Linked DNA regions of Homo sapiens. The protein of the gene in region 2 purifies or fractionates together with the protein of the main gene of each other region. This does not show direct contact. Each region holds a gene or a part of one and is shown on either strand. Other genes may lie near its edges.

Region 1 (3,500 bases), on a different chromosome or scaffold from region 2:
TATGAATCCACCTCTTCATCCATCCAATCAGCAGCCGCTGAGCACCTGCTCTGTGCTGAAGAAGAACAACAGACATGGCCCTGCCATCATAGAGCTTGCATTCTACAGAGGTGCCCAGATCATTCAACATGAGGCTGCAAGGAAGTATGAAGGGGATGATGGCAGCTCTAGTAACATGAAGCAAAGGGGGCACTGCCCCCAACCTGTCCAATGGGGACATTAGTACTAATAATGGTGCTCTCTGCTGCCTCATACAGAAAGAGAGGTTATGACTGGACTGTAAGCTTCCCGAACTGTTTTATTCATCTCTGGGCCCAAACACCCAGCTAAGGACCATCACTCAGGACAGGCTTACTGAACTTAATTGATCTGAACAGACTGTAAGAATTGTTTTCCGACTCTTGACAAGCTCCTGGCTTCAAGAATTCAAACCTTAGGCAGAATGCTTTGGCTATACCTATTGTATTTGTTTACTAAATAGTTACAGAGTAAAATAAGCACATTTTGCCAGGGACCTTAACTGGCTTCCATGAATGAGTTTTGGCGACATTACAATGCAGAACTGCACATGTGCATATTTTAATGGGAAGAAGTGTGTTTCTAGCGGTCACAGGATTCTCAATGGGACCTATGCTACAATAATGATTAGTTTCTCTGACCTACCACGTTCCTGCTATTGCAGTGATGCTGAATGGACTCAAAGTTAACCCTCCATACAGCTCTGCCCTCCAACAATGTACCAGCTAGTGGGGAAGATGACATGCAGTTACCTAACTAAAAGACAAGGTGAAAAGGGGCAACTTCCATAAAATAGAGGGAATTTTCAGAGAGACCTCAAAGATCTATGCCTCAGTTTCCTCACCTGCAAAATGAAGACAGAAGTTATTTTTCTTAGGGTGTCTGTGAGGGCTAAACATGATGACACAAGGGCTTTGTAAATGTACCATGCTATGGGACTGGTACTCAAACAGATATATAGACCAATGGAACAGAACAGAGACCTCAGAAATAACACCACGCATCTACAACCACCTGATCTTCGACAAACCTGACAAAAAGAAGCAATGGAATAAGGATCTCCTATTTAATAAATGGTGCTGGGAAAACTGGCCAGCCATATGTGGAAAACTGAAACTGGACCCCTTCCTTATATCTTACACGAAAATTAACTCAAGATGGATTACAAACTTAAATGTAAAATCCCAAACCATAAAAACCCTAGAAGAGGCTGGGCGTGGTGGCTCATGCCTGTAATCCCAGCACTTTGGGAGGCTGAGATGGGCGGATCATGAGGTCAGGAGATCGAGACCTTCCTGGCTAACACGGTGAAACCCCGTCTCTACTAAAAATACAAAAAATTAGCCGGGCGTGGTGGTGGGCTCCTGTGTAGTCCCAGCTACTCGGGAGGCTGAGGCAGGAGAATGGCGTGAACCCAGGAGGTGGAGCTTGCAGTGAGCCGAGATTGCTCCGCTGCACTCCAGCCAGGGAGACAGAGTGAGACTCTGTCTCAAAAAAATAAATAAATAAAAATTTAAAACCCTAGAAGAAAACCTAGGCAATACCAATCAGGACATATGCATGGGCAAAGACTTCATGACAAAAACACCAAAAGCAATTGCAGCAAAAACCAAAATTAACAAATGGGATCTAATTAAACTGAAGAGTTTCTGCACAGCAAAAGAAACTATCATCAAAGTGAACAGGCAACCTACAGAATGGGAGAAAATTTTTGCAATCTACTCATCTGACAAAGGGCTAATATCCAGAATCTATAAGAAACTTAAACAAATTTACAAGAAACAAACAACCCCATCAAAATGTGGACAAAGGATATAAACAGACACTTCTAGAAAGAAGACATTTATGTGGCCAACAAACATGAAAAAACGCTCAACACCACTGATCATCTGAGAAATGCACAATGAGATACCATCTCATGCCAGTCAGAATGGCGATTACTAAAAAGTCAAGAAACTATAGATGCTGGTGAGGCTGTGGAGAAATAAGAATACTTTTACACTGTTGGTGGGAATGTAAATTAGTTCAACTATTGTGGAAAACAATTCCTCAAGGATCTAGAACGAGAAATACCATTTGGCCCAGCAATCCCATTACTAGGTATATACCCAAAGGAATAGAAATCATTCTACTATAAAGACATATGCACACGTATGTTTATCGCAGCACTATTTACAACAACAAACACTTGGAACCAACCCAAATGCCCATCAATGATAGATTGGATAAAGAAAATGTCAACATATATACCATGGAATACTATGCAGCCATAAAAAGAAATGAGATCATGTCCTTTGCAGGGACAGGGATAAAGCTGGAAGCCATCATTCTCAGCAAACTAACACAGGAACAGAAAACCAAACACTGCCTGTTCTCACTCATAAGTGGGAGTTGAACAATGAGAACATATGGCCACGGGGAGAGAAACATCACACACTGGGGCCTGTCAGGGGGTGGGGGAGTTGCAAGGAAGGGAGAGCATTAGGACAAATAGCTAATGCATATGGGGCTTAAAACCTAGATGACGGGAAGATAGGTGCAGCAAACCACCATGGCACATGTATACCTACGTAACAAACCTGCATGTTCTGCACTTGTATCCCAGAACTGTCAGTAAAATTAAAAAAAAAAAAAAAAGTACCGTGGTACAAAAGGTAAGGCAATGGCATGATTTATGCCAATGTCGATGACTACTTAGATCAAGGTTTTCACTAGGGAAGGCCTCGATGCAGCCCTCATTCTTCTAGCTATTCAGACCAGAAACCTCGGAGTCACCACTGGCTCCTCTCTCCTTCTCATACCCACATCCATTCCAAGAGGAAAACCCCATTTGCTTGACCTACAACACATACATCCCGAATCTAAGCATATCTCACTGTCTCCACTGCTCCCTCCTGCTGCAAGCCACCGCCATCTCTTGGCCTGAGTTATCACTGTTGCTGCCTAACTGGTCCCTCTCCTTCCACATTTAATTCCCCCTGATTAATGCACCATAAAACTGCTATGTTCAATCCTCTTAAAACTTAAGACAGGTCGTCCTACAATTCTACTCCAAATCCTGCAATGTCCCCCTCCCCCATTCAGAGTAAAAGCCAAGGACCTCACAATACCTACGAGGCACTGCTCCCTATGACCTCTCTCAGAGAATCCATTCCTTACTGCTTTGCATCTTGCTTACTCTACTGCAGCCACACTGGCCTCCCACACATCAGAGAGGCTTCCTCCTCTTTATATTGGCTATTCGTTCTACTTAGAAGGGTCCTTCCCTGACTGCCACCGCCAGGGAAGCCAGCAGCAAAAACCCACTTTCCAGGCAAACCCTCAAGGTTCAGCTGACACTGGGATGGCCCTGCTGCTGCAGCCCACCATGTCAGTCAGGGTGTCTCTAGGCCTGGCATTGCACCATTTAATTCAACCAAACAAATGCCTATTACCCCATTCAGACCCTGTGCCGTGACAGTGTGCACGTCATACTGTCCACC
Region 2 (3,500 bases):
CTAAAAACAACATGAGGGTTGCAGGGCACCTTGAAATCAGTGTAGTAGATGACCCAAGCAGTGTGTTTCCAGAGAGAACAAAAGAAATGTAAATAGATCTTTGTGTTTACTGAACAAAGGAGCCTTGCCACAAACAGGGAATTTGGTTTTAACTTTTCACTGACGAAGAAGAAGTTTCAAATTTGTTGGCCATCTGTAGCTGCTTACTTAGTAAGCAGAACGAGAACACCTGGGCATCCCAGCAAAGGTGTCCAGTCCAGAGGGAATTCACACTAGACTCAAGTAGCAGTTCTGCCACTCTCTAGCGATGTGTGTCAGACCATCACTTCACCTCCCTGGGCTTTGGATTCATAATCTGGGCCTTTGGGGTTGGGTCTGCTTCTTCTGAGACAGTTTGTGTTTCTATATGGGCAGCTGCAGAACAACTGGATGACAGGCAGCAGGTGTCCAGTGAGCTTGAATGCCAGACAAAGCAATCTGGCTTTTATGTGTAAACCTGGCTGTTTGTACCTTTTTCAATGGTTTGATTCAGTAGCTCTGATGATATGTGCTTGAGCTATGGAAGATTTCTCATCTTTTTTTCCCTTCTTCCCTAGACTGCAAATGTCAAGATGGCAGATGGTAAGTGGGAGGTAGGGTATAGTCTGGCTTAAGGGAAAAGTTCCAGTCCCACTGAATCCACCTCTAGCTCTGTGTCCCTGAACAAATGATGCCTTCCAGTGCTAATACTAGTAATAATGATGATGATGACACTGACAACAATAATGATTTCATAATGATGGTGGTAATACCTAACACCTAAATGGTATTTATCATCATGACAGTTATTGTTATGAACATTTTACACATGGAAAACAGAGAGGGTAAGGCACAGAGAGGGTAAGAAAGTTGTCCAAGATCACACAGACAGTAAGTAGAAGTGAGATTTTAAACAAATTATTTTGGCTCCAGAGTCCATGCTGTAGGATAGAAGTTCTCAAATTCTTTGGTCTCAGGACTCCTAGATAATCCTTAAAATATTGATGCCACTGAGGGGAGAAAGTTTTAAAATATTTGTTTATTAACCTATTTAAAAATAAAAACAATCCCATTGCTTAACATAAATATTTTAATAAAATATTTAGTAAAATAATATTTTCCACACGCGTATACCAAAAATAGTGAGAAAAGTGGCATTTTTTTTTTATTATTGAATATCTATTATTGTCTTAAAACCAGACAGCTGAAGCCTCCTGTTTCAGCATTCAATCTGTTGAGGTATGTTGTTTTAGTTGAAGAAAATCTGGCTTCGCACAGTTGGAAAAGGGAAGGGTTTTTAATAGTCTTTCAGATAATTTAGGATATTCTTCTTTGATACTACACCAAAATTCGATAGGTGGTAGTTTCTTAAACGTTGGTTGCAATGTGAAATCTGAAATCATATCAATAAACTTTTCATAATCTATTAAATTATAATGGATTGATTTATCTTGTACTTTGAATGGTTATTCTACCTACATACGATTTTGTAACATCATGCATTGCCTGTTTAGAGAACACTGGTTTACTGAGTTACGTTCGTTTTCAAAATGTGGACACCCTTACTTATCTAATATAGAAAATTCAAATGCATTAATATCACCACCAGTGCCATCAGTTATGATTGGGAAGAAGTTGTCAAGCTCGTGATGGTGGCTAAAAGTTTCGCAAAATTCTAACTTTTTCTGGAAAGTTCAAATTTTATTATTGGCAATTAATACTACTGTTTCCTTCAAGCGGCAGGTTCATTTTCCTCATTTTAAAGAATATTCAAGAATAACTAACCATAATTTTTCTGTCGGTCATTCTTTAAAGTAAAAGTGGCTAGTTCAGCTCAGAACTCAAATGCTTTTCTTTGAGACAGTCATAGTACTTGGCAGGAGTACTTTACGTATACTGCCCATCTGCCATATGAAATATTAAAAATCTATGTATTCAAGGGTCAAGATTTAATACAATTAATAATTTTTACTGCTCCATGGAAGATATTCTTAAGTGCAATTGGCTTTTTTTTTCTTTTCAACTACAAGTATATGGCAGTGGAATGTACAGTGACCACTAGTTTGGTACCGTTGGTGCCATTGTCTGAATTTGTTTGAGCAGTTTCACCCACCATTGCTTTTGCACAATTAGGATGGGTAAACCGCAGTTCAGAGGACTTAACAGCCTATCCCAGAGTTCACAGCTAATAAAAGGCAAAGCCAGGATTTGGACACCAAGCCCAGCGCTGTTTCCATCACACTCCATAGCTGCCCTTTCCCAGCCCTCAGGGTCCTAGACTGGTGTAAGGCTTTCAGAACAAAATGGGTTAGCTCAGGCCCTGAACGGTATGAGTCAGAGAGCAGAGTGGCTTGGATGGCATGTTTTCTATTTCCGAACAAGCAGTTTGGGGCTTTGGGGCAATCCCAAGCGATTGTGTCAGATCTGGGCAAAAGTTTAGGACTCTGAATTAAAAAGGATTTGTTACCTTTACAATGTAGGAAAATGAAATGCCAGTATCCTTTTAGTGCCACCATCTTCTCCCATTAACAATGGAAAGTGATGATCATAGCTAACATTTTTCTGAGCATTTACAAAATGCCAGGCACTATTCTGAGCATCTTACACACTTTAATTTAAACTTGACAACAATCCTATGAGGTAGACTCTAAAACTGACCACATTTTAGAGATAAGGAAACTGAGACACAGAGAAGTTAAGGAATTTCCCAAAGTCACACAGCCAGAAAGCGGCAGAGCCAGGACCCAAACCCACGCCTTTGAACAGCAGAGACCATATTATGTTCTGATGCAATCAGATTCCCAATCAATCCAACCTGTAGTCTTTCATTGTCCTTTGCACCACTCATAACCTGAACTAAAAAATATTCTTGCCTTTTTATGAGTCCATCAAGCATGTGACAATACCCACTGGTACTGAAAACAACTAAATCACCACTAGTTGCTTATGACGTAACTGGAAGTCATCATTGAGAATGAGCTTTTTAAATACAGTGCAGGCATGGTCTGTACTGAGGCTTAATGAACCAGAAAAAGCAAACTGCAAGAAAAAAGTTATTTTATGACCTCTCTGGGAATTGAGACTCTATTTCCTCCTTTTTACATTTTTTGTATTCCCCTCAGCACTTCATGTGTTATTGTGAACTTCATAGGCATTTAATAAACGCTGGTTGATGAAGTAAATGGAAGGCTCAAGTGAATTTTAGGCAAATTAGCTTTGGAGACACCCCATTTATTATTTACCCACTTGACAAGATGTCACATCCACAAATCCACAAATCCTTCCCAACATTTATTACTTAATTTTCAAAGTGCCCCCATCTCTCCTCAGGGAGGAAGGTGGGGCCAAGTGTTATATTCCCATTTTGACAGGTGAGAGAAACTGAGATATAAAGAGTTGAGCAGTCCATTGCCATGGCAACCCAGCCAGTCAGCCGAGGAGCCAGTCACAATTAGGTTTAGGGCCTGGGTCTTGGTATCAAA

The links. Proteins that work in one complex are often made in the same cells at the same time.
Region 1: the proteins of ROR1 (region 2) and DOCK2 purify together in Homo sapiens (affinity purification with western blotting; one study listed by BioGRID). This does not show direct contact.

What each region holds. Positions count from the first base shown.
Region 1 is NC_000005.10:169,643,775-169,647,274, reverse strand, and holds part of DOCK2 (dedicator of cytokinesis protein 2), read right to left. Parts: intron 1-3,500. UniProt on the Homo sapiens protein: Involved in cytoskeletal rearrangements required for lymphocyte migration in response of chemokines. Activates RAC1 and RAC2, but not CDC42, by functioning as a guanine nucleotide exchange factor (GEF), which exchanges bound GDP for free GTP.
Region 2 is NC_000001.11:64,043,017-64,046,516, reverse strand, and holds part of ROR1 (inactive tyrosine-protein kinase transmembrane receptor ROR1 isoform 1 precursor), read right to left. Parts: intron 1-3,500. UniProt on the Homo sapiens protein: Has very low kinase activity in vitro and is unlikely to function as a tyrosine kinase in vivo. Receptor for ligand WNT5A which activate downstream NFkB signaling pathway and may result in the inhibition of WNT3A-mediated signaling.